Linked DNA regions of Homo sapiens. The protein of the gene in region 3 interacts with the protein of the main gene of each other region in a pairwise test. Each region holds a gene or a part of one and is shown on either strand. Other genes may lie near its edges. The genes, in order: CXCR4, CD14 and TLR2.

The links.
Region 1: the proteins of TLR2 (region 3) and CXCR4 interact in binary tests that used the Homo sapiens proteins (3 or more experiments, as listed by UniProt).
Region 2: the proteins of TLR2 (region 3) and CD14 come close enough for resonance energy transfer, tested with the Homo sapiens proteins (one study listed by IntAct).

What each region holds. Positions count from the first base shown.
Region 1 is NC_000002.12:136,114,128-136,122,593, reverse strand, and holds CXCR4 (C-X-C chemokine receptor type 4), read left to right. Parts: upstream 1-4,444; 5' UTR 4,445-4,533; coding exon 4,534-4,548; intron 4,549-4,724; exon of another isoform or gene 4,725-5,065; intron 5,066-5,620; exon of another isoform or gene 5,621-5,851; coding exon of another isoform or gene 5,852-6,118; intron 6,119-6,358; exon of another isoform or gene 6,359-6,654; coding exon of another isoform or gene 6,655-6,681; coding exon 6,682-7,725; 3' UTR 7,726-8,245; downstream 8,246-8,466.
Region 2 is NC_000005.10:140,630,813-140,638,136, forward strand, and holds CD14 (monocyte differentiation antigen CD14 precursor), read right to left. Parts: upstream 2,364-7,324; 5' UTR 2,260-2,363; coding exon 2,257-2,259; intron 2,169-2,256; coding exon 1,044-2,168; 3' UTR 920-1,043; downstream 1-919. UniProt on the Homo sapiens protein: Coreceptor for bacterial lipopolysaccharide. In concert with LBP, binds to monomeric lipopolysaccharide and delivers it to the LY96/TLR4 complex, thereby mediating the innate immune response to bacterial lipopolysaccharide (LPS).
Region 3 is NC_000004.12:153,686,576-153,694,597, reverse strand, and holds part of TLR2 (toll-like receptor 2 precursor), read right to left. Parts: exon of another isoform or gene 6,697-8,022; 5' UTR 6,551-6,696; intron 6,545-6,550; exon of another isoform or gene 6,253-6,544; intron 1-6,252. UniProt on the Homo sapiens protein: Cooperates with LY96 to mediate the innate immune response to bacterial lipoproteins and other microbial cell wall components. Cooperates with TLR1 or TLR6 to mediate the innate immune response to bacterial lipoproteins or lipopeptides.

The DNA.
Region 1 (8,466 bases), on a different chromosome or scaffold from region 3:
TTTGTTTAAATGACTTACCAGGATGGCTCTAAATTGCCTATATTTGTTTACTAGTCTAGTTTATTCTCTTTGTATAGGAAATTTGTTGACTAGTCTTGACTGCTATAAAGCATTGATGGAAATCACTAATCATCCCATTTTAGTGAAGGCAGACCTTTTCAACATTCAAGATACAACTTAAATCTAGAGTAAAAATGGCTCTCCCCCAAAAAACAGTAATAATTTCCTAAATTGGTAAAGAACTGTAGGATGGAAGGTTTGGGTTTGTTTTCAAAGTCACTTTTCATCTGTAGGTGTTGGAGACAGAAGGATTTAGGGAAGGAGGAGAGGGCGGGGTGTGGTTAGGCAAGGGACAATTTGTTCCACCTAACACCAGCTTGGAAATAGTTGACATTTGATACCATTGTCTCTTTGAGATTTGTAACCCTGTGTTAGAATTACTTGCGCCTTGAGAAATAGTCTCCGTTTTTGTTTTTTTTTTTTAATCACTTAGGAAAACATTAACTTTCTCTAAGTATCCCTTACTACTGTCAAGGAAGTTTGCACTTTTTTCCTCTTTCAGAAACAAAAGCGATCAATTTTTTTAGAGACAGGAGAGGGGCCAGCGAAGGAACCAGAAGACCCTGTGTATTCTGAAGGCCTTTAATGCCTCCTGCCATCCACCTCCTCCTGGCACCTCCTCCTTTCTCTAACCTCCTGCCATCCACCACTGGGAAAAGGTCTGTTCCTAAGCTTTCTGCCTAGCTAACATGAAGCCAATTTAGGGACAGAGTACAGCTTTTCATCACACACACACAGATACACACACTCACACACAAATCAACCAGCTGCAGAGCGAGCAACAGGAGGTGGCAGGATGCTTGCCACTGTGTCACTGGATTTGTAAGCATCCCCTCCAAACTGTGGCCAAGGCTAGTTATTCCCTGGGCTAAAGCCAACCTGAGAAGTTGGGGACCCTGCCAAATCCCTGACAGCCCCTAAGCCTGACTCTGTTGCCAGAGCCACACAGGAAAGTCATTCATTCTTTTAAGAAAGGTTCAGTAAAAGATTAAGGAGCCCAGTATTTGTTCAGCAATGGGCTAGCTGGATAGAGGATATCTGGGCATTCACTTTAAGGAACCTAAAATATTGGAGGGATAGGAGTATGACATATACTCATTTAAAAGTTGAGTAACATCACAAGGGATGCCACTCAAAGCAGTATGTACGTAAATGCCAAATGACCTGGGCTTCAGAGCCAGACAGACTGGGTGCAGATCCTCATTCCGGGGTCACAGGCCAGTTCCTCATCTTTCCAGACCCTAATTTCTTTACCATGTAATAAAAGTAATGGCACCTGCCTTGTAGAGTTATTGAGGGGATTATATGAGGTCAGTTGCACATAACAAGCGCTCAGTAAATGCTTGAGTTTTGTTTGTTTTTTAAAGAACATCATAGAATAGTTGAGAATAAGGTTTAGGTAGCCCAGTGGAAATAGAAGTTTAAGATTAGCCCATTGGAAAACAAGCCTTCCTTGAAAGGGGAAAGGACTATTGTGAAAAAAGTCTGACATCTTAGTAGATACTTTAGAAGTGGAAACATACATGAAGGAGGCCTTCTGATTCCCTTTTTGTCATACAATTTGTTGGCTTTTTTATGAATATGAAAATGATTCATGTCTATTACAGAAAATCTGGAAAGCATAGAAAAACCCCAGGAAGAAAGCAAAAATCAAATATAATTCTGCACCAAGGAAAACGCCTATAAACATTTTGGTTTTCCTCCCTATATTTTCCAAATGCATATTTTAACATAACTGAGATCACACTATATACACAATTCTGAATCCTGCCTTTTGCACTTAATGTTTCATAAGTATTTCCCCATGTCACTAAAAATTCTTCACAAATAACATTCGCGATGTCCATATGGAATTTCAGATGTGGATGAACCAAAATCTTGTCAACTATTCCACTAACAGTGGTTATTTAGGGATGTTCAGACATTTCACTATTTAAAAAAAAATGTTTCCACAAATACCTTTGTGGCATAAGTTTTTATGAGTGGAGTTACTGTTCTGAAGTTCCTGCTGAATAGAAAATGCTTTCCAGTGAGGCTGTCCCAAGCCACATTCCCATCAGTGACAAGCGAGAGACAGCTGGTCTTTTCAAATCCGGAGACCAAATATTATCTTTGAAAAAAAATGGATTTTTGCCTAATTTGGTAGTCACCAAATAGCATCTCATTGTTCTTTTAATTATCTGCTTCCTTTTAGTAGAGATCCCTAAAAAGATCTGAAAGGAGTCTTCAGATAAAGGAAGGAGCTTTCTTTTGTCTGTCTACAATCAACAAATATTTATTATGCAAACCATTTTGCTCCGAGTTTTCTCCTCTTTCCCTTTTTGGACAGATTTGGGAGATCTCACCTTTCAGGTTTTAGACATCGTGCAGGGAGGAGTTTTGAGGTAGGGTGCAGCTTACGGTCCAGGATAAAACATACTGATTCTGCCACTACCAGGCTTTGTGAAAAGCAAGTCATGAAAACGCTCTGAAATTCTAGACCTTCAGTAGATAGGATCTACCGTGTCTATAAAAATATGAAGATCCTTAAGTTTTATTAAAGATTCGAAAAAAGTAAAAGTGTTTTTACGGTTTTATTTTCATTTTTATTTCTTACCGTTATCGTTTATTATAAAGGATATTATAAAGGATACAGATGAAGAGATACGTAATGCAAGGCCTGTGAGAAGGGGCGTGGAGCTTCCGAAACCTCTTCCAGCCACCACCCTCCAAGAACCTGGAGTTTCTTTTTTTTTTTTTAATTCTACAAATGTAATATTAGAATTGATTTTATCTGGCCATTAGTGTGTGTCCTAACTCGTTCGTTTCTGAGAGTCCCATCTCCCGGCCCGGATATCATCTTTCCTGTGTCAGTGAAAGTGCAGAGTAGATGAGAACCTTTAACCACCAACATTAGGGAGGGGTCCCAGACAAAGGGGGAAAGTCATGCTCTGTAGAGAAAAGGTTCCCTGCCTCCGAACTACCTCTGGAACACTCCAGACTGAAATGTTTCCTCTTTTGATATAGAAAAGAGGGATCGTGTGTAGAGTGCAGTCTGGGCAATCCCTCTCCTCGGGACCATTTCGGGGTGGGGGCCTCTGGGGTCCGTGTCGCGACGCACGCGCCTCGGTCCCAGCTATCTCCGCAGCGGCCACCCCGCCTGCGGACGCAGTTTCTCGGCCCCGCCCCACACTCGCTCCCCCGCCCCACCCAGTCTCCGCGCCGGAGGGAAGTGGCGCGAGGGGGAAAGCACTGTCTGCGCGCCCACTGCAAACCTCAGCCAGTCTGAGATCGCTTTAAACGTCTGACCCCCACCCCCACTCCGCCCCGCCCAGTTCTTCAACCTAATTTCTGATTCGTGCCAAAGCTTGTCCTCTGCTCAAAATCGTGGAAGACGCCGAGTATGGGGACCGAAGACCTGGGTTCAAGCCCGGCTTGGAATCCCTGCCCATCCCTGGCATTTCATCTCTCCGGGCTTATTTGCTGGTTTCTCCGAATGCGGGCCTTGTCTGGTTCACGCTGGATCCCCAACGCCTAGAACAGTGCGTGGCACGCAGTTCGTCCTTCTATAAATATCGGACTAAATGCATCTCTGTGATGGTAATACCCACACGGTGTTGTGAGAATGAATGAGTGATTCTGTGCAAGTTCCTAGTGATCTGTTACAAAAAGTACTGGTCGCTAAATTACTCTTATAATAAAGCATACTTTTAGGATAATAAAGCACTATTCGCGAATTGGTTACCGCTATTATGAAATTACTGAGCAATACATATCTACATCTGATCAGTCTCCAGAATTATGCCAAATCCTACCTTCTTCTGAAAGTATCTCCTAATTATCTGCACCTGACCCTAGTGATGCTGTGAATGTGCAAGTATAGCTACATCCTCCGAAGGAAGGATCTTTACTCCTTTTACCTCCTGAATGGGCTGCGTCTGCTGAAAGCGCGGGGAATGGCGTTGGAAGCTTGGCCCTACTTCCAGCATTGCCGCCTACTGGTTGGGTTACTCCAGCAAGTCACTCCCCTTCCCTGGGCCTCAGTGTCTCTACTGTAGCATTCCCAGGTCTGGAATTCCATCCACTTTAGCAAGGATGGACGCGCCACAGAGAGACGCGTTCCTAGCCCGCGCTTCCCACCTGTCTTCAGGCGCATCCCGCTTCCCTCAAACTTAGGAAATGCCTCTGGGAGGTCCTGTCCGGCTCCGGACTCACTACCGACCACCCGCAAACAGCAGGGTCCCCTGGGCTTCCCAAGCCGCGCACCTCTCCGCCCCGCCCCTGCGCCCTCCTTCCTCGCGTCTGCCCCTCTCCCCCACCCCGCCTTCTCCCTCCCCGCCCCAGCGGCGCATGCGCCGCGCTCGGAGCGTGTTTTTATAAAAGTCCGGCCGCGGCCAGAAACTTCAGTTTGTTGGCTGCGGCAGCAGGTAGCAAAGTGACGCCGAGGGCCTGAGTGCTCCAGTAGCCACCGCATCTGGAGAACCAGCGGTTACCATGGAGGGGATCAGTGTAAGTCCAGTTTCAACCTGCTTTGTCATAAATGTACAAACGTTTGAACTTAGAGCGCAGCCCCTCTCCGAGCGGGCAGAAGCGGCCAGGACATTGGAGGTACCCGTACTCCAAAAAAGGGTCACCGAAAGGAGTTTTCTTGACCATGCCTATATAGTGCGGGTGGGTGGGGGGGGAGCAGGATTGGAATCTTTTTCTCTGTGAGTCGAGGAGAAACGACTGGAAAGAGCGTTCCAGTGGCTGCATGTGTCTCCCCCTTGAGTCCCGCCGCGCGCGGCGGCTTGCACGCTGTTTGCAAACGTAAGAACATTCTGTGCACAAGTGCAGAGAAGGCGTGCGCGCTGCCTCGGGACTCAGACCACCGGTCTCTTCCTTGGGGAAGCGGGGATGTCTTGGAGCGAGTTACATTGTCTGAATTTAGAGGCGGAGGGCGGCGTGCCTGGGCTGAGTTCCCAGGAGGAGATTGCGCCCGCTTTAACTTCGGGGTTAAGCGCCTGGTGACTGTTCTTGACACTGGGTGCGTGTTTGTTAAACTCTGTGCGGCCGACGGAGCTGTGCCAGTCTCCCAGCACAGTAGGCAGAGGGCGGGAGAGGCGGGTGGACCCACCGCGCCGATCCTCTGAGGGGATCGAGTGGTGGCAGCAGCTAGGAGTTGATCCGCCCGCGCGCTTTGGGTTTGAGGGGGAAAACCTTCCCGCCGTCCGAAGCGCGCCTCTTCCCCACGGCCGCGAGTGGGTCCTGCAGTTCGAGAGTTTGGGGTCGTGCAGAGGTCAGCGGAGTGGTTTGACCTCCCCTTTGACACCGCGCAGCTGCCAGCCCTGAGATTTGCGCTCCGGGGATAGGAGCGGGTACGGGGTGAGGGGCGGGGGCGGTTAAGACCGCACCTGGGCTGCCAGGTCGCCGCCGCGAAGACTGGCAGGTGCAAGTGGGGAAACCGTTTGGCTCTCTCCGAGTCCAGTTGTGATGTTTAACCGTCGGTGGTTTCCAGAAACCTTTTGAAACCCTCTTGCTAGGGAGTTTTTGGTTTCCTGCAGCGGCGCGCAATTCAAAGACGCTCGCGGCGGAGCCGCCCAGTCGCTCCCCAGCACCCTGTGGGACAGAGCCTGGCGTGTCGCCCAGCGGAGCCCCTGCAGCGCTGCTTGCGGGCGGTTGGCGTGGGTGTAGTGGGCAGCCGCGGCGGCCCGGGGCTGGACGACCCGGCCCCCCGCGTGCCCACCGCCTGGAGGCTTCCAGCTGCCCACCTCCGGCCGGGTTAACTGGATCAGTGGCGGGGTAATGGGAAGCCACCCGGGAGAGTGAGGAAATGAAACTTGGGGCGAGGACCACGGGTGCAGACCCCGTTACCTTCTCCACCCAGGAAAATGCCCCGCTCCCTAACGTCCCAAACGCGCCAAGTGATAAACACGAGGATGGCAAGAGACCCACACACCGGAGGAGCGCCCGCTTGGGGGAGGAGGTGCCGTTTGTTCATTTTCTGACACTCCCGCCCAATATACCCCAAGCACCGAAGGGCCTTCGTTTTAAGACCGCATTCTCTTTACCCACTACAAGTTGCTTGAAGCCCAGAATGGTTTGTATTTAGGCAGGCGTGGGAAAATTAAGTTTTTGCGCTTTAGGAGAATGAGTCTTTGCAACGCCCCCGCCCTCCCCCCGTGATCCTCCCTTCTCCCCTCTTCCCTCCCTGGGCGAAAAACTTCTTACAAAAAGTTAATCACTGCCCCTCCTAGCAGCACCCACCCCACCCCCCACGCCGCCTGGGAGTGGCCTCTTTGTGTGTATTTTTTTTTTCCTCCTAAGGAAGGTTTTTTTTCTTCCCTCTAGTGGGCGGGGCAGAGGAGTTAGCCAAGATGTGACTTTGAAACCCTCAGCGTCTCAGTGCCCTTTTGTTCTAAACAAAGAATTTTGTAATTGGTTCTACCAAAGAAGGATATAATGAAGTCACTATGGGAAAAGATGGGGAGGAGAGTTGTAGGATTCTACATTAATTCTCTTGTGCCCTTAGCCCACTACTTCAGAATTTCCTGAAGAAAGCAAGCCTGAATTGGTTTTTTAAATTGCTTTAAAAATTTTTTTTAACTGGGTTAATGCTTGCTGAATTGGAAGTGAATGTCCATTCCTTTGCCTCTTTTGCAGATATACACTTCAGATAACTACACCGAGGAAATGGGCTCAGGGGACTATGACTCCATGAAGGAACCCTGTTTCCGTGAAGAAAATGCTAATTTCAATAAAATCTTCCTGCCCACCATCTACTCCATCATCTTCTTAACTGGCATTGTGGGCAATGGATTGGTCATCCTGGTCATGGGTTACCAGAAGAAACTGAGAAGCATGACGGACAAGTACAGGCTGCACCTGTCAGTGGCCGACCTCCTCTTTGTCATCACGCTTCCCTTCTGGGCAGTTGATGCCGTGGCAAACTGGTACTTTGGGAACTTCCTATGCAAGGCAGTCCATGTCATCTACACAGTCAACCTCTACAGCAGTGTCCTCATCCTGGCCTTCATCAGTCTGGACCGCTACCTGGCCATCGTCCACGCCACCAACAGTCAGAGGCCAAGGAAGCTGTTGGCTGAAAAGGTGGTCTATGTTGGCGTCTGGATCCCTGCCCTCCTGCTGACTATTCCCGACTTCATCTTTGCCAACGTCAGTGAGGCAGATGACAGATATATCTGTGACCGCTTCTACCCCAATGACTTGTGGGTGGTTGTGTTCCAGTTTCAGCACATCATGGTTGGCCTTATCCTGCCTGGTATTGTCATCCTGTCCTGCTATTGCATTATCATCTCCAAGCTGTCACACTCCAAGGGCCACCAGAAGCGCAAGGCCCTCAAGACCACAGTCATCCTCATCCTGGCTTTCTTCGCCTGTTGGCTGCCTTACTACATTGGGATCAGCATCGACTCCTTCATCCTCCTGGAAATCATCAAGCAAGGGTGTGAGTTTGAGAACACTGTGCACAAGTGGATTTCCATCACCGAGGCCCTAGCTTTCTTCCACTGTTGTCTGAACCCCATCCTCTATGCTTTCCTTGGAGCCAAATTTAAAACCTCTGCCCAGCACGCACTCACCTCTGTGAGCAGAGGGTCCAGCCTCAAGATCCTCTCCAAAGGAAAGCGAGGTGGACATTCATCTGTTTCCACTGAGTCTGAGTCTTCAAGTTTTCACTCCAGCTAACACAGATGTAAAAGACTTTTTTTTATACGATAAATAACTTTTTTTTAAGTTACACATTTTTCAGATATAAAAGACTGACCAATATTGTACAGTTTTTATTGCTTGTTGGATTTTTGTCTTGTGTTTCTTTAGTTTTTGTGAAGTTTAATTGACTTATTTATATAAATTTTTTTTGTTTCATATTGATGTGTGTCTAGGCAGGACCTGTGGCCAAGTTCTTAGTTGCTGTATGTCTCGTGGTAGGACTGTAGAAAAGGGAACTGAACATTCCAGAGCGTGTAGTGAATCACGTAAAGCTAGAAATGATCCCCAGCTGTTTATGCATAGATAATCTCTCCATTCCCGTGGAACGTTTTTCCTGTTCTTAAGACGTGATTTTGCTGTAGAAGATGGCACTTATAACCAAAGCCCAAAGTGGTATAGAAATGCTGGTTTTTCAGTTTTCAGGAGTGGGTTGATTTCAGCACCTACAGTGTACAGTCTTGTATTAAGTTGTTAATAAAAGTACATGTTAAACTTACTTAGTGTTATGTTCTGATTTCTGTTGACATTCTTTTGGCTAGTAGAAGACAAAAGTAATACATTTATGGTATGCAAAGCACTATCCTAGGTATTTCATTGTAATATTTTACTTACCCCTTATCACAACTCTGATAGATTCTGCTTCTGTTACTAATTACATTTTATAGAAGAGGAAACGGAGGCACAGAAAGCCTAAGTAACTTGGTTAAAGGCATGTAG
Region 2 (7,324 bases), on a different chromosome or scaffold from region 3:
GGCTCTGGACATTGGCCAGAGGCAGGTGCTGGGCCTATATGCCTCCTCCCACCTTTCTCCCATGCTCCCTGTGAGGCAGGCATCTAGCTCTCTGATGGATGTGGCTGCCTCCTCATTGAAATGAAGAAGGGGCTCAGAAGAAACAGCACCTCTTGATGGCTGATGCTGTAGGTCTCTGAGCTAATGTGGACTAGAGGACAAATCCTGTTTATTCTGAAGTTTTGAAGAGTCTGAGATGCTTTCCTATTTGCCAATCAGTCAGCCTGAAAAGGTTATCTGCATATGTGTTCTAACAGAACACAGGATCTCTAATTCAGAGACCGACTGTATCTTGCGTCAGTTCCCTAGGCCCAAATTTCCCATTATGTCGGGGAGTGACACAGTGAAAGCCTCCGGGTGAAGAGAGGTTTTACAAGAGAGGAACCCTAATATTATGAAACTCAGAGCTTGTGCAGGATAGGAGGCTGTCCCTCTTCCTTGAGTGGTAAGGGAGACAGACAGAGAGGGAGAGGGAGGGTGTGTGAGTGTGTGTGTGTGTGAGAGAGAGAAAGAATAAGGAAATAAGCAAATGGCTGTGGGTTTTATTACCTTTGAAAGGGAGCAGCTGGCTCTTGGGAAGTGCATAGGAGAGGAAATATTTTGTATCTTCCAAATATCATGCAAATACCTTTTAATCCAGATGCCAATAATCTGCTCAGAAAGCCCTGACTGCACACTCATTGTTTCTCCCATGCAGCCCTAGCCAGGAGTCCTTTCCTGGCTCCTTCTATCCCCGCAGTTCTTTTCTTGAGGAGGACAGATAGGGTTTCTTAGGGAGTTAGGATGAAGAAAGCCTAAGTATGATGAATTCCCCATCCAGCACTGTGCCCAGCACATAGCAGACATCCAATAAAGGTCTGTTAAATGAATGACACGGACCCGTTGTTTAAGATTTTAATAAAGGTGGGGCAAAGGGTTGAATTGGTCGAAAAGTCCTCAACGTCCTGACGGGACTCCCCTGAAGCCAAGGCAGTTTGAGTCCATTCATTATTCTGTCTTGGATCTTAGGCAAAGCCCCGGGCCCCTTGGAGCAGCACCAGGGTTCCCGACACCCCCACCGACAGGGTCGAACGTGCACAGGCTGGGACCACGCCGGAGTTCATTGAGCCCTCGTGGGGGAGGGCAGTTCCAGGGACCAGGAAGGGATTCCCGTCCAGTGTCAGGTTATCCACCTCGGGCAGCTCGTCAGGCTGCGGCGCCCTGTTCAGTCTGTTGCAGCTGAGATCGAGCACTCTGAGCTTGGCTGGCAGTCCTTTAGGCACCTGTTCCAGCCCAGCGAACGACAGATTGAGGGAGTTCAGGGCGCTGGACCACATGCATCTCGGAGCGCTAGGGTTTACGGTGGCGCGCAGCGAGTTGTGGCTGAGGTCTAGGCTGTGGGGCTGCACACCTGCCGCCGCCAGTGCGGCGCACACGCCTGTGGGCGTCTCCATTCCTGTGTTGCGCAGCGCTAGATTCTGGATGGCCGGGAACTTGTGGGGACAGAGAGCCGCCATCAGTCCGCGTTCGCCCAGTCCAGGATTGTCAGACAGGTCTAGGCTGGTAAGGGCCGGGAAGGCGCGAACCTGTTCGCAGGAAAAGGCAGGCGAGTGTGCTTGGGCAATGCTCAGTACCTTGAGGCCTGGCTTGAGCCACTGCTGCAGCTCGGCGAGCCAAGAACGCCCTGTCGCCCACGACACGTTGCGTAGGCGCAAGCTGGAAAGTGCAAGTCCTGTGGCTTCCAGAGGCAGCGGAGGCATGGTGCCGGTTATCTTTAGGTCCTCGAGCGTCAGTTCCTTGAGGCGGGAGTACGCTAGCACACGCAGGGCGCCTACCAGTAGCTGAGCAGGAACCTGTGCGGCTCCCACTGTGAGCCGCCGCACGCGGAGAGCCTTGACCGTGTCAGCATACTGCCGCGGGTCGGCGTCCGCATCGACGCGCTTTAGAAACGGCTCTAGGTTGAGACCGCCGGCATGGATCTCCACCTCTACTGCAGACACACACTGGAAGGCTTCGGACCAGTCGGGCTGAGGTTCGGAGAAGTTGCAGACGCAGCGGAAATCTTCATCGTCCAGCTCACAAGGTTCTGGCGTGGTCGCAGAGACGTGCACCAGCGGCAGCAGCAGCAGCAACAAGCAGGACGCGCGCTCCTGGGGAGAGAGCAGAGGTCTAGGAGGCCCCATCCAACCCCTGTGGCTCCCGAGTGGCACGCGTTCGACCCCAAGACCCTACACTCACCATGGTCGATAAGTCTTCCGAACCTCTGAGCTCCGGACAGGCTCTGGAAGTGCTTTAGCTTCTTTCCTACACAGCGGCACCCGCCGGCTTCCAGGCTTCACACTTGTGAACTCTTCGGCTGCCTCTGACAGTTTATGTAATCCTGGGATGTCATTCAGTTCCCTCCTCTGTGAACCCTGATCACCTCCCCACCTCTCTTCCTCCGAGCCAGCCCCCTTCCTTTCCTGGAAATATTGCAATGAAGGATGTTTCAGGGAGGGGGACCGTAACAGGAAGGATTCTGCAGGGCATCTAGGGTTCTGTGTCTCCTGGCAGTGTCCTGATGACTCAGGCGCCCCAGGCGGTGAATGCCCTGTTGACTCGGGAGCCTAAGCCTTCTCTGGTGGGTGTGGGAAAAGGATGATCCTCAGTGCCTTAGGCCAGTACCATACTCTGCACTATCCAACCCCCCAATCCCCCTACCTTATATCCCAGAGAATCTACTTGATTCATTTCTTTGACTTCTTCCTTGTCTTGGTTTATGTTGATCTCCTGCCACCAAATCCAAGTCCCTGAATATCCTCAGATATTTAACTGCATGTTTTGTGGAAGAGATTGTGAACCTCATCTGTTGGCACCAAGGGGGGTAGAATTAGGTTCAAGAAAAGGAAGTTGGTCTAAAGAAAAATTCCCCCTTCCTTTTTTTTTCCTTGCTCCTTTGATTAAGTAATAACTTTCTTTCTTTTTTTTTTTTTTTTTTGAGATAGAGTCTTGCTCTGTTGCTCAGGCTGGAGTAGAGTGCCATGATCTCGGCTCACTGCAACCTCCGCCTCCTGGGTTCAAGCAATTCTCTGCCTCAGCCTCCCGAGTAGCTGGGATTACAAGTGCCCACCACCACACCCAGCTAATTTTTGTATTTTTTAGTAGAGACAGGTTTTCATCATCTTGGCCAGGCTGGTCTTGAACTCCTGACCTTGTGATCCACCCGCCTCGGCCTCCCAAAGTGCTGGGATTACAGGCGTGAGCCACTGTGCCTGGCAGTACTAACTTTCTTAAAAGTGGATGTATTTAACAGAGACACATTGGCCAAGTCTCTGGGTCACTTACACTATCCATTTTCTGTCCTGAAATTGTGAAGCAAGGTATTTTGAATCAGTTTTCCCACTTGCACGTTGCTCTCTCCTGCCCTCCCCTCAGTACAATCTCTGTGCCCTAGGAAGGAAGGGATGGGACTATGTTGAATGAGGATTAATTAGTAACTCACCAGTTTCGCAAAAAACAGACAAAAACAGAAAACAAAACAAAATGAAAAAAACAGCAAACAAAACAAAACAAAAAAACAACAAATGTCCCAGAGAATAAGGAGCTACGCATTTACAACAGCCCTCACAGGTCCACATCCCTAGACCTCTGGGGAAAGAACTATATGAAAGTCTTTTTTTTTTTTTTTTTTTTTGAGACTGAGTTTGGCTCTGTTGCCCAGGCTGGAGTGCAGTGGCGTGATCTTGGCTCACTGCAACCTCCGCCTCCCAAGTTCAAGCAATTCTCTTGCCTCAGATTCCTGAGTAGCTGGGATTACAGGAGCCCACCACCATGCCCGGCTAATTTTTGTAGTTTTAGTAGAGACAGAGTTTCACTATGTTGACCAGGCACTCCTGACCTCAGGTGATCCGCCCGCCTTGGCCTCTCAAAGTGCTGGGATTACAGGCGAGAGCCACCACACCCGGCCTGAAAGTCTTTTTTACTTTTATTTATTTATTTGAGACGGAGTTTTGTTCTTGTTGCCCAGGCTGGGCGCGATCTCAGCTCACTGCAATCTCCGCCTCCCAGGTTCCAGCAATTCTCCTGCCTCAGCTTCCCGAGCGGCTGGGATTACAGGCATGTGCCACTACACCCGGCTAATTTTGTATTTTTAGTAGAGATGGGGTTTCTCCATGTTGGTCAGGCTGGTCTCGAACTCCCGACCTCAGGTGATTCACCTGCCTCGGCCTCCCAAAGTGCTGGGATTACAGGCATGAGCCACCGTGCCCGGCAGAAAGTCTTTTTTAAATTCCCACTTCCTCTTTAATTGAGAAAGAAGTAGCTGCAGATTTGTCCCCAATCCAAACAAGAAGGCTCATCACTGCCCCCTGCGGGTCCTGTTGGGCATACCCCAATGCACTGGGCCATGCCCTGGTGCCATGCCAGGCCTCTGTGATATCCCTGAGGACCAAGATATGATTATATCTGACTCAAAGTCAGATAGCCAGTCTTGGAATCCCAGCTTTACGACTGAGGTTATGAGACTTGGGCCTCCCTTCTGTAAAATGGAGATGATAGTATTACCTGTTTGTGAGTAAAGTCTTTGGCACAGAAACACATCTTTTTAGTGTGGTCTTGATGACTAGTCTTCTTTCTCAGAGTCTCTGCTTTCAGAGAACTCAGGCCACTGAAGTCTGACACCTCATCATCTTAGGGGAGGCACTCTGGGTGGGGAGTTCCAAGTTAAGAGGGGCAGTGATGGTTCTGCAAAGATCTCCAACTCACAGCTTGATTCAACAAATGTCTATCATTTGTCTACCGAGTACTAGGGTTGGTAGAAAGCCCTGGGACACAGACATGACAAAGACAAGTCCCTGAAGTGCTCCAGGAGGTGGGTAGAGCAAACATGAACCCAGAACTTCCGTCCATAGTGCAGAGGGCTCTTAAAAGAAGAGAAACCAAAGGCTTGTGTTGTTGGGGGAGAGGGGTGGAGGGGAGGAACATGGTCTGGAGAAAGGAACAGCCAGCCCTGTACAAGACAGGACATGGGGCTGGTTCTTACAGGGTTAACAGTGTTGCTAGACAGGTAGATACAGAAAGGCAATTTGGGCAGCTGTAGCTGTCTGAGCAGACACTGGGCAGAATATAGCTTTTGGCTGGGAACTTTTTTCATCTTCCCCACCTGGAGCACATGTGGGTTTTGTTGTTGTTGTTATTGTTGTTGTTTTAGATGGAGTTTCACTCTTGTTGCCCAGGCTGGAGTGCAATGATGCAATCTTGGCTCATCGCAACCTCCACCTCCTGGGTTCAAGCGAGTCTCCTGCCTCAGTCTCCTGAGTAGCTGGGATTACAAGCACGTGCCACCACACCTGGTTAATTTTGCATTTTTAGTAGAGACGGGGTTTCACCATGTTGGTCATGCTGGTCTCGAACTCCTGACCTCAGGTGATCCACCTGCCTCCATCTCCCAAAGTGCTGGGATTATAGGCATGAGCCACCTTGCTGGGCCAAGTGTGGGTCTTAGAAGCTAGCCTGGGTTAGGTGCAGTGGCTCATGCCAGTAATTCTAGCACTTTGGGAGGCCAAGCTGAAAGGATCATTTAAGGCTGAGTTCCAGGCTGTGATAAGCCATGATTGCACTACTGCACTGCAGCGTGGGCAACCGAGCAAGACCCTGGCTCAAAAAAAAAAATAAATAAATAAAATAAAAATAAAAAAGTTTTTCTTGGGGAAATAAGAAAATAAATTTTTTTTAATTAAAAAATTAAAAAAAGAAGCCAGACAGTTGCATGAGGAAGGGCTCAAGATCCAGGCCCTATCCCTGGCCAGAGCATGGTGCACAGCAGGTACTCAGTAAATGGCTCTCCAGGGGCTGGATGGATACTGGGAGAGAAGATATGGAGGATGGAATGATGGCCTGTAGATATTTTAACATGCTGTTTTGTGGAAGAGATTGCAGACTTCATTGATTAACTCCAAGGGGTAGAATTAAGTTCAAGGGAAAGAAATTGGTTTTAAGAATAACCTTTTTCCTAGATTTGTACTTAATTGAACCTTTGCCTAAGTTATATGGCTTTTTAAAAATTAGAGGTTTCCTGTAAAAATTCTTAGGTGCCACCGGGACCCTAATCTTCTGGAGCTGCCAAGGGGGTCTGGGAGGAGACAACATCAAATAATTACACTATAACTTAATGATAGCTGTGAAAAGGGTTGTGAAGAAGCTGGGTCATTGGTACAATGGTTCTGAGTAGGTGACACTGGACTTGACATGTTGAGAATGGTGTTGAGGGAAGGATGCTGGTAGAAAGAAAAGGGAAGGATGCAGGCAGAGAAAACAGCTTGTGCGAGAGCCTCCCCCAAGAGTGGGAGTAGGGTGGAGGAGAAAAAGAACAGGGCTTGTTGACAAAGAGAAGGTCCCAGAAGAGGTGAGTCCAGATTGGAGAGGTATGCAGGGGTTAGACCATGTAGGGCTAAGTCGGCCACAATTCCAATTTTGAATGTGAGGAACACGGTTTTTTATTCACTAGTGTTTCCTCAGTGCCTAGTAGACTAGTGGCACTCCACATTTGGTGAAAGATTTTATCCTAAAAATTATGGGAATTCAGTTTTATGCAGAGAAGTGAAATAATGATATCTTTCTCATTTTCATCACATATAAAATGAGAATAATGGTCATTGTGGTGAACATTCTGTAAAGCAAAAATAAAATTCTAAGGCCGCCCCCCACAACCATCTGAATGGACTTCCTCCTCAGCCAGGGCTCTTTCAAAATTAAACCCGAGTGACCGTTTCAGGCCATGATGGGAAGTAGGGGTTGAACGTGCCTCATTATACCTCTCTACCGTTAACATCAACACAGACTTTAAGTTTGATAAGAAACATTTTACAACCCATTCTCTCTGAAGCCTAGGATTTGAAGGTTTCCTCTGCAAATAAGAACTTGGGTCTCCACAATCCTTTATCTTAACCCAGACATTCCTTTCTATTGATTTCAGGTCTTTAGAGAAACTCAACCAATTGTCAACCAGAAAAATTTAAAATCTACCTATAAGCTGGAAGCCCCCCACCGCCCCACTTCGAGTTGTCCCGCCTTTCTGTTGTCCCACAAACCAATGTCTTTCTCTCTTTCCCCCTCCCCTCTCTTCCCTTCCTCCTTTCCTCTTTTCTTTTCTTTCTTTCTTTTCTCCCTTTCTTTCTTTCTTTCTTTCTTCCTTCCTTTCTTTCTTTTCTTTCTCTTAGGAATAACGCTCAAAATCCTAAGGGAAATTGAACACTCGAACAAAGGATTATTAGCAAAGCAATTTTACTTCTGCTCAGAGGGGTGTCTGCTTGGCCAGTCGCCATGAGAG
Region 3 (8,022 bases):
CAAAATATCTCAAGTGCCCCATAAATATATACATCTACTATGTATCCACAAATATTAAAAATAAAAATACAAAAGTAAAACATACACAGGATTCTCTTAGTTTGTCTAGCTATTGTAGCTTTAAAAAATATGTGCCTGTTTGCCTTAAGCAGCTTTTCTTCTTTGTCCACTGTTGGGAACAGGCCCTCAAATCTGGCCATAAACTGGCCCCAGATCTTGCCATAAACAAAATCTCTGCAGCACTGTGACATGTTTGTGATGGCCATGACGCCCACACTGAAGGTTGTGGGTTTACTGGAATGAGGGCAAGGAACACCTGGTCCACCCAAGATGGAAAACCACTTAAGGCATTCCTAAGCCACAAACAATAGCATGAGCGATCTGTGCCTTAAGGACGTGTTCCTGCTGCAGATATCTAGCCAGAGCCCATCGCTTTGTTTTGGCCCATCCCTTTGTTTCCTGTAAGGAATACTTTTAGTTAATCTATAATCTACAGAAATAATGCTTATCACCGGCTTGCTGTCAATAAATACGTGGGTAAATCTCTGTTCAGGGCTCTCAGCTCTGAAGGCTGTGAATCCCCTGATTTCCCACTCCACACTCTATGTTTCTGTGTGTGTGTCTTTAATTCCTCTAGCACTGCTGGGTTAGGGTCTCCACGACCGAGCTGGTCTCGGCAAGTGGCGCCCAACGTGGGGACTCAAACCCAGGATGAAGGCTCGCTGGAGCAATGGTTGGAAAACGTGGAACAAAGCTGGAGGATACCCGAGTACTCTTAAGCAATCCCCATGGTGAGTAAGAAGGGGAGCTCGGAAGCATCAGGGTAACAATGGGCAAGTGTGGGCTCTAGCTCATTCCACCTTGGAACCTTTTCACACTAAAGATGAGGAGGAAGGAAAGTATAATGAAGTAACAGAAGAGGTGACAGAGCAGGTTTGTTTGCCAGCTAAAGCTAAAGTGGCAAAGGAGGGAGAGGTTTGTCCCTACCCTTCTGCACCCCCTCATTATTTCGAAGCAAAAGAGTAGCCTGATCCTCCAGATCTTTCTTTTCCAGAGGACACTGGGCAAAAAGTAGTCGCCCCAGTGACTGAGCAGCACCTCGAGCGACCACTCTCAGTTCTATTCAGCCAGGAATTCAGCAAGTTAGAAGAGAGGGTGATATAGAGGCTTAGCAGTTCCCTGTTAGAATATACCCCGTAGATCAACAGGGAAATATTATAGCTACATTTGAGCCTTTTCCTTTTAAATTACTCAAAGAATTTAAACAAGCTATTAATCCATATGGAACAGGTTCTCCTTTTGTAATGGGACTGTTAAAGAAGGTTGCTGTCTCCAGTCAGATGATGCCAGCGGGGATGGTAGGATTACTTCTAGGTAGGTCTAGTTTAAATTTAAAAGGCGTGCAAGTACAAACAGGAGTCATTGATTCAGATTACAAAGGGGAAATTCAAATTGTTATATCTACTTCTGTTCCCTGGAAAGCAGAGCCAGGAGAGCATATAGCACAGCTCCTGATTATGCCATATGTGGAAATGGGGAAAAGTGAAATTAAATGAACAGGAAGATTTGGAAGCACAAATAAACAAGGCAAAGCAGCTTATTGGGTGAATCAAATTACTGATAAACATCCTACTGGTGAAATAACTATTCAGGGAAAGAAATTTAAAAGTTTGGTAGATACAGGAGCGGACATTTCAATCATTTCTGTACAGCACTGGCCATCTGCATGGTCAATTCAACCTGCTCAATTTAACATAGTTGGAGTTGGTAAAGCCCTTAAAGTATATCAAAGTAGTTATATTTTGCATTGTGAAGGGCCCAATGGACAACCTGGGACTATACAAAAAATTATAACTTCTGTACCTATAAATTTATAGGGAAGAGATTTATTACAACAATGGGGATCACAAGTTCTAATTCCAGAATAATTATACAGCCCTCAAAGTCAACATATGATGCATGAAATGGGGTATGTCCCTGGTATGGGACTAGGAAAAAATTTGCAAGCTTTGAAGGAAATGCTTCAAGCGGAAAGACAAAGTTCCCACCAAGGTTTAGGATATCATTTTTGATGGTGGCCATTGTTAAGCCTCCAGAACCTATATACCTTTAAAATGGTTAACAGATAAGCCAATTTGGATAGCACAATGGCTGCTGAGTAAAGAGAAACTGGAGGCTTTAGAGGACTTAGTTGCTGAACAATTAGAAAAAGGACACATAGCTCAACATTTTCCCCTTGGAATTCTCCAGTTTTTGTAATTAAGAAAAAATCAGGTAAATGCAGAATGTTAACTGACTTAAGAGCCATTAATTCAGTTATACAACCTATGGGGACATTGCAGCCGGGACTGCCTTCTTCTGCTATGATTCCAAAAAATTGGCCTTTAATAGTCATAAATTTAAAAGACTGTTTCTTTACTATCCCCTTAGCTGAGCAAGGCTGTGAACTGTTTGCATTTACAATTCCTGCAGTAAAAAACCTGCAGCATACTAAAGCATTTGTATTGGAAAGTGTTGCTACAAGGCATGTGAAACAGTTCAAAAATTTGCCAGACTTATGAAGGGCAAGCAATTGAACCTACTCGTAAAAAATTTTCACAGTGTTACATTATTCATTATATGGATAATATACTTTGTGCTGCCCCCACTCAAGAAATATTACTCCAATGTTATGATCACTTGCAAAACTCGATTTCTCATGCCAGTTTAATTATATAGCTCCTGACAAAATTCAGACTACTACTCCTTACTCCTACTTGGGGACCTTAGTAAATGACACTACCATTGTGCCACAGAAAGTAACTATACGTAGGGATCAATTGAAAACATTAAATGACTTTCAAAAATTACTAGGGGACATTAATCGGATATGACCTGCTCTAGGCATTCCCACCTATGCCCTGAGTAATCTATTTTCTATCCTTAGAGGAGATCCTAGTCTCATTAGCCCTCAGCAATTAACAAAAGAAGCTGAGGCAGAGCTGCAGCTAATCAAAAAGCAAATCCATAAATCTCAAATAAATAGAATAGATCCAAAAAAGACCCTAGATTTGCTAATTTTTCCAACTCAGCATTCACTTACTGGTGTTATTGTATAAGAGCAAGACTTTGTACAGTGGCTTTTTCTTCCACATACTAATTCACAGACTCTAACTCCTTATTTGGATCAAATGGCTACGATGATAAGAAATGGGAGAATTCGGATTGTTAAATTACATGGATATGATCCTGGAAAAATTATTGTCCCTCTCACAAAGGCACAAATACAGCAAGCTTCTATAAATAGTCTTACTTGGCAAACCCATTTAGCTGACTTTGTGGGTATTCTTGATAATCATTTTCCTAAAATGAAATTATTTCAATTTTTGAAATTAACTAATTGGATTCTCCCCAAAATAACTAAATTTAAACCAACTGAAGGTGCTGAGAATGTTTTTACAGATGGGTCTTGTAATGGTAAAGCCTCTTATTCTGGATCAAAAGGTAAAGTTTTTCACACGCCCTATACTTCAGCTCAAAAAGTGGAGCTTTAGCTGTAATTGAGGTATTGACTGCTTTTGATATGCCTATTAATGTGATTTCTGATTCTTCCTATGTGGTTCATTCCATACAATTAATTGAAAATGCTCAGTTATGACTTCATACAGATGAACAACTGATGACTTTATTTACCCAATTGCAAACAGCATTTAGGAGTAGAATGCACCCTTTTTACATCACTCACATTAGGGCTCATACACCTCTTCCAGGACCTTTAACTGAAGGGAATCAAATGGCTGATCGCCTAGTTGCTACTGCAATATCTAATGCTAGACACTTTCACAATTTAACCCATGTTAATGCCTCTGGTCTCAAATGCAGATATAACAGTACCTGGAAAGAAGCTAAAGCTATTATCCAGTGATGCCCAACTTGCCAAATGGTGCATTCCTCATCTTTAACAGGAGGAGTTAATCCTCGAGGATTGGAACCTAATTATCTTTAGCAAATGGATGTCACACGTTCCCTCGTTTGGGAGACTAGCTTATGTACATGTATGTGTGGACACCTTTTCTCACTTTGTCTGGGCTACATGCCAATCAGGAGACTGCATGTGTTAAGCATCACCTTTTGCAGTGTTTTGTGGTGATAGGAATTCCAACTTCTGTTAAAACAGATAATGCCCCAGGCTATACTAGCCAAGCTCTAGCTACATTTTTCTCTATATGGAATATTAAACACATTACTGGCATCCCATATAATTCTCAAGGACAAACCATTGTAGAAAGAATGAATCTCTCCCTGAAACAGCAGTTGCAAAAGCAAAAAGGGGAAACAGGGATTACAGGACACCCCATATACAACTGAATCTAGCATTAATGACTTTAAATTTTTTGAGCCTGCCTAAAGGCCAGATGCTATCAGCAGCTGAAGAGCATCTACAGAAACCAGCTGCAAAAACAGAAGCAGAACAACTGGCTTGGTGCAGAGATCTGACAACAAAAAGTTGGGAAATAGGTAAAATAATAACTTGGGGTAGAGGTTATGCTTGTGTTTCTCCAGGCCAGAATCAATAGCTGATTTGGATACCATCAAGACACCTGAAACCTTATCATGAGCCAGATGCCAAGGAAGAGATTCTGGGAGGATCCCGAGGACCCTCTGGTTGCAGCCATGTCGAGACTGATGCTGAGGAGGACCCAAACTATCACGAGCAACAACCATCAAACACAGCCATCTACCTGGGGACAGATCAAGAAACTGCCATAGAGGGTGGAAGAAAACCTGAGGAAAGTGGGACAACCAGTCACAATGAGTAATTTAATGATAGCTATGATAGCAGTGATCACCATTGCCATTAGTATTCCTTCAACAAGGGCTAACACAGAGAACAATTATACTTATTGGGCATATTTATCAATCTTGGCTGGCAATAATGCCTGGATGTAATCATTCTATGACACAGTTACACATGCTTTCTGATCTCAGTATTTACCATAATAAATCTGTTTCTATAATTGAGGCATATTGCCCTCAAAAACCTATTTGTAAACAGAATTGGACCTGGCCAGAAATAATGAACATACTTGTTTGGGAAGATTGCATTGCAGAATAGGCAGAGGTGCTGCGCAGTGATTCCTATGGAATCATTATTGATTGGTCCCCTAAGGGGATGTTTAGCTTAAATTGCACCTCTCAGTCTGCGTGCCATGGCCACACTATGTTTAGCTGGTCTAAACAAAATGGTCAGATGGTAGAAATAGCAAGAAATATGGCAAGAGTTCCTATTATCTGGAAACATGATGGTATAGTGGCACCTCACCCTCAAATGATATGGCCCGCTGTAGGAGCTAAACATAAGGATTTGTGGAAACTATTAATGGCTCTTAAATAAGACCAAATTCAGGAAAGAATAAAAAAGCACCTAGAAGACACTCTACAAACTTGTCTTTCCATATTGCAATATTAAAAGAACAAATATTTAAAGCATTCCAGGCACACCAGACCTTAATGCCAGGAACTGGAGTGCTTGAAGGAGCTGCAGACAGATTAGCAGTGATTAACCCATTAAAATAGATAAAGACACTTGGAAGCTCTGTGATTTCAATGATGGTTGTGCTTTTAATCTGTGTTGTTTGTCTTTGTATAGTATGCATATGCGAATCCCGACTCCTGCAAGAAGTAGCTCACTGTGACAAAGCTGCCTTTGCTTTTATTGCTTTGCAAAACAAAAAAGGGGGACATGTGGGAACAGGCTCCCAAACCTGGCCATAAACTAGCCCCAGATTTGGCCATAAACAAAATCTCTGCAGCACTGTGACATGTTTGTGACAGCCATGACGCCCACGCTGAAGGTTGTGGGTTTACTGGAATGAGGGCAAGGAACACCTGGCCCACCCAGGGCAGAAAACCGCTTAACGTGTTCCTAAGCCACAACAATAGCATGAGCAATCTGTGCCTTAAGGACGTGTTCCTGCTGCAGACATCTAGCCAGAGCCTATCCCTTTGTTTCGGCCCATCCCTTTGTTTCCTGTAAGGAATACTTTTAGTTAATCTATAATCTATAGCGATAATGCTTATCACTGGCTTGCTGTCAGTAAATATGTGGGTAAATCTCTGTTAGGGGCTCTCAGCTCTGAAGGCTGTGAGTCCCCTGATTTCCCACTCCACACTCTACATTTCTGTGTGTGTGTCTTTGATTCCTCTAGCGCTGCTGGGTTAGGGTCTCCACGACCGAGCTGGTCTCAGCAGTCCATTGTAATTCTAAGTTACCTTTAGTAAGGCTCACACATTTCTCTAGAAAAGCACAGGTTCTTGGTCCATAATTCTTATAAATGAAATCGGCTGGAGTTGCAGATGGAGTTGTAGACTCCTTAAATCCAGATAAGCCCAGGATTCCCTGTCTTCTAGTAACCTTATCTACTTGAGGCCTCCTAGAGCACCAGTCCAGTTTCAGTTTCTTCACTGAATCCAATCCAATTCTGGAGCCAATCCATCAAAGAATTGCTCAAATAAAGTCAGAGAGCTGAAAATGCAAATGTATAGTGCTCAAGTCTGAGCAGGAACTTACCCACAACTACCAGTTGAAAGCAGTGAAAGAGCAATGGGCACAATGAGCCCCACAGGTACCTTCACTTGGTCACTAAGAGCTCCTGGGAGTCACTATAGGTCTCCTTTGGATCCTGCTTGCAACACCAAACACTGTTAAAAGAGAAACTTCAGACAAATTAAATTTGACAGAGTTTATTTTAGCAAAGAATGATTCATGAATCAGGCAGCACTCAGATTCACAAAAGTTTCAGAGAGCATCCAACAGTGTGAGCAGTGAGCTTTTATAGGCCAAACACAAGAGCATAGTAATCACCTGATTGGCTTCAGCTAGGAGTCTGCCTTATTTGGGTATGGTGTAATAGGCATTTACCTTGTTTGGGCATAGTCTGATCAGTTGGCTGCCTGTGATTGGCTAAAGCTTGGCTATTTATGATTTGGTGGAAATTTAGCTATTAATTACAAAAAAAAAGCTCCTAAGTTAGGTTTCAGTTTGTTTATGTAGTATACTAAATTAGGTTGCAGTTTATTATGTAAGAACTCAAAGTGTAGAGACAGTCTCAGGATAATGGCCTCCTGCTTATGTCATTTAACAAAAGAGAGGTCCTCAATTTTATTCCTTAGATGAGTTATTTGTACCAGCTTTTATTGTCTTGCCAGAGGTTCATCATTTTTATTAGCATTTTCAAAAAATCAACTTCTGACTTGATAGATCCCCTATTTTCTAGCACATTAATTTCTATTCTTATATTATTATTTCCCCTGTTCTGATTTCTCTGGATTTATTTTACTATTCCTTTTCCAGTTTTTAAGGTATTTGCTTGCTCATTCATTTTTCGTCACTCTTCATTTCTAATATATGCACTTAAGGTTGTAAGTTTCCTTTAAGCAACAGTTTAGGTGCATCTGACAAGTTTTTATATGTAATTTTTTTCATAAGTCATTAAAAATATTTTCTGATTTTCATTCTGATTATTTTTTGACCCATGGGTTATTTAGAAATTTACTAATTTCCAAATATATGAGAATTTTCTATAAGTTTTTCTGTTCTTTTCTACTTTAATTGCATTATGGTCAGAAGACATATTCTGTATGATTTAAATTCTTTAAAATGTATTGCAATTTACTCTATGAGCCAGTATATGGTCAGATTTTAAGTATGCTCTGTGATTTCAGCTGCTGTTGGAAGTAGTATAGGTTCCTTATGTGAACTACATTGTGTTCGCATTTTCTTTATCCTTATTGATTTTTGTCTGGTTTTTCTATCAGTTACTGAGAGATGTATGATAAAATCTCCCACTATGATTGTGGATTTTTCTATGAATTTTCTATTTTTCTAGTTCAGTCAATTTGGCTCTATTCTTTTTCTATTTTCTAGTTTCTTAATGTTGTTATAAGTACTTATAAATTCAAAATTTTTATTTCTTCTCAGTGAAACCTTTAACTTAGTGAAACGTTTATCTACAGTTATGATTTTTTTCCTAATTCTATTTT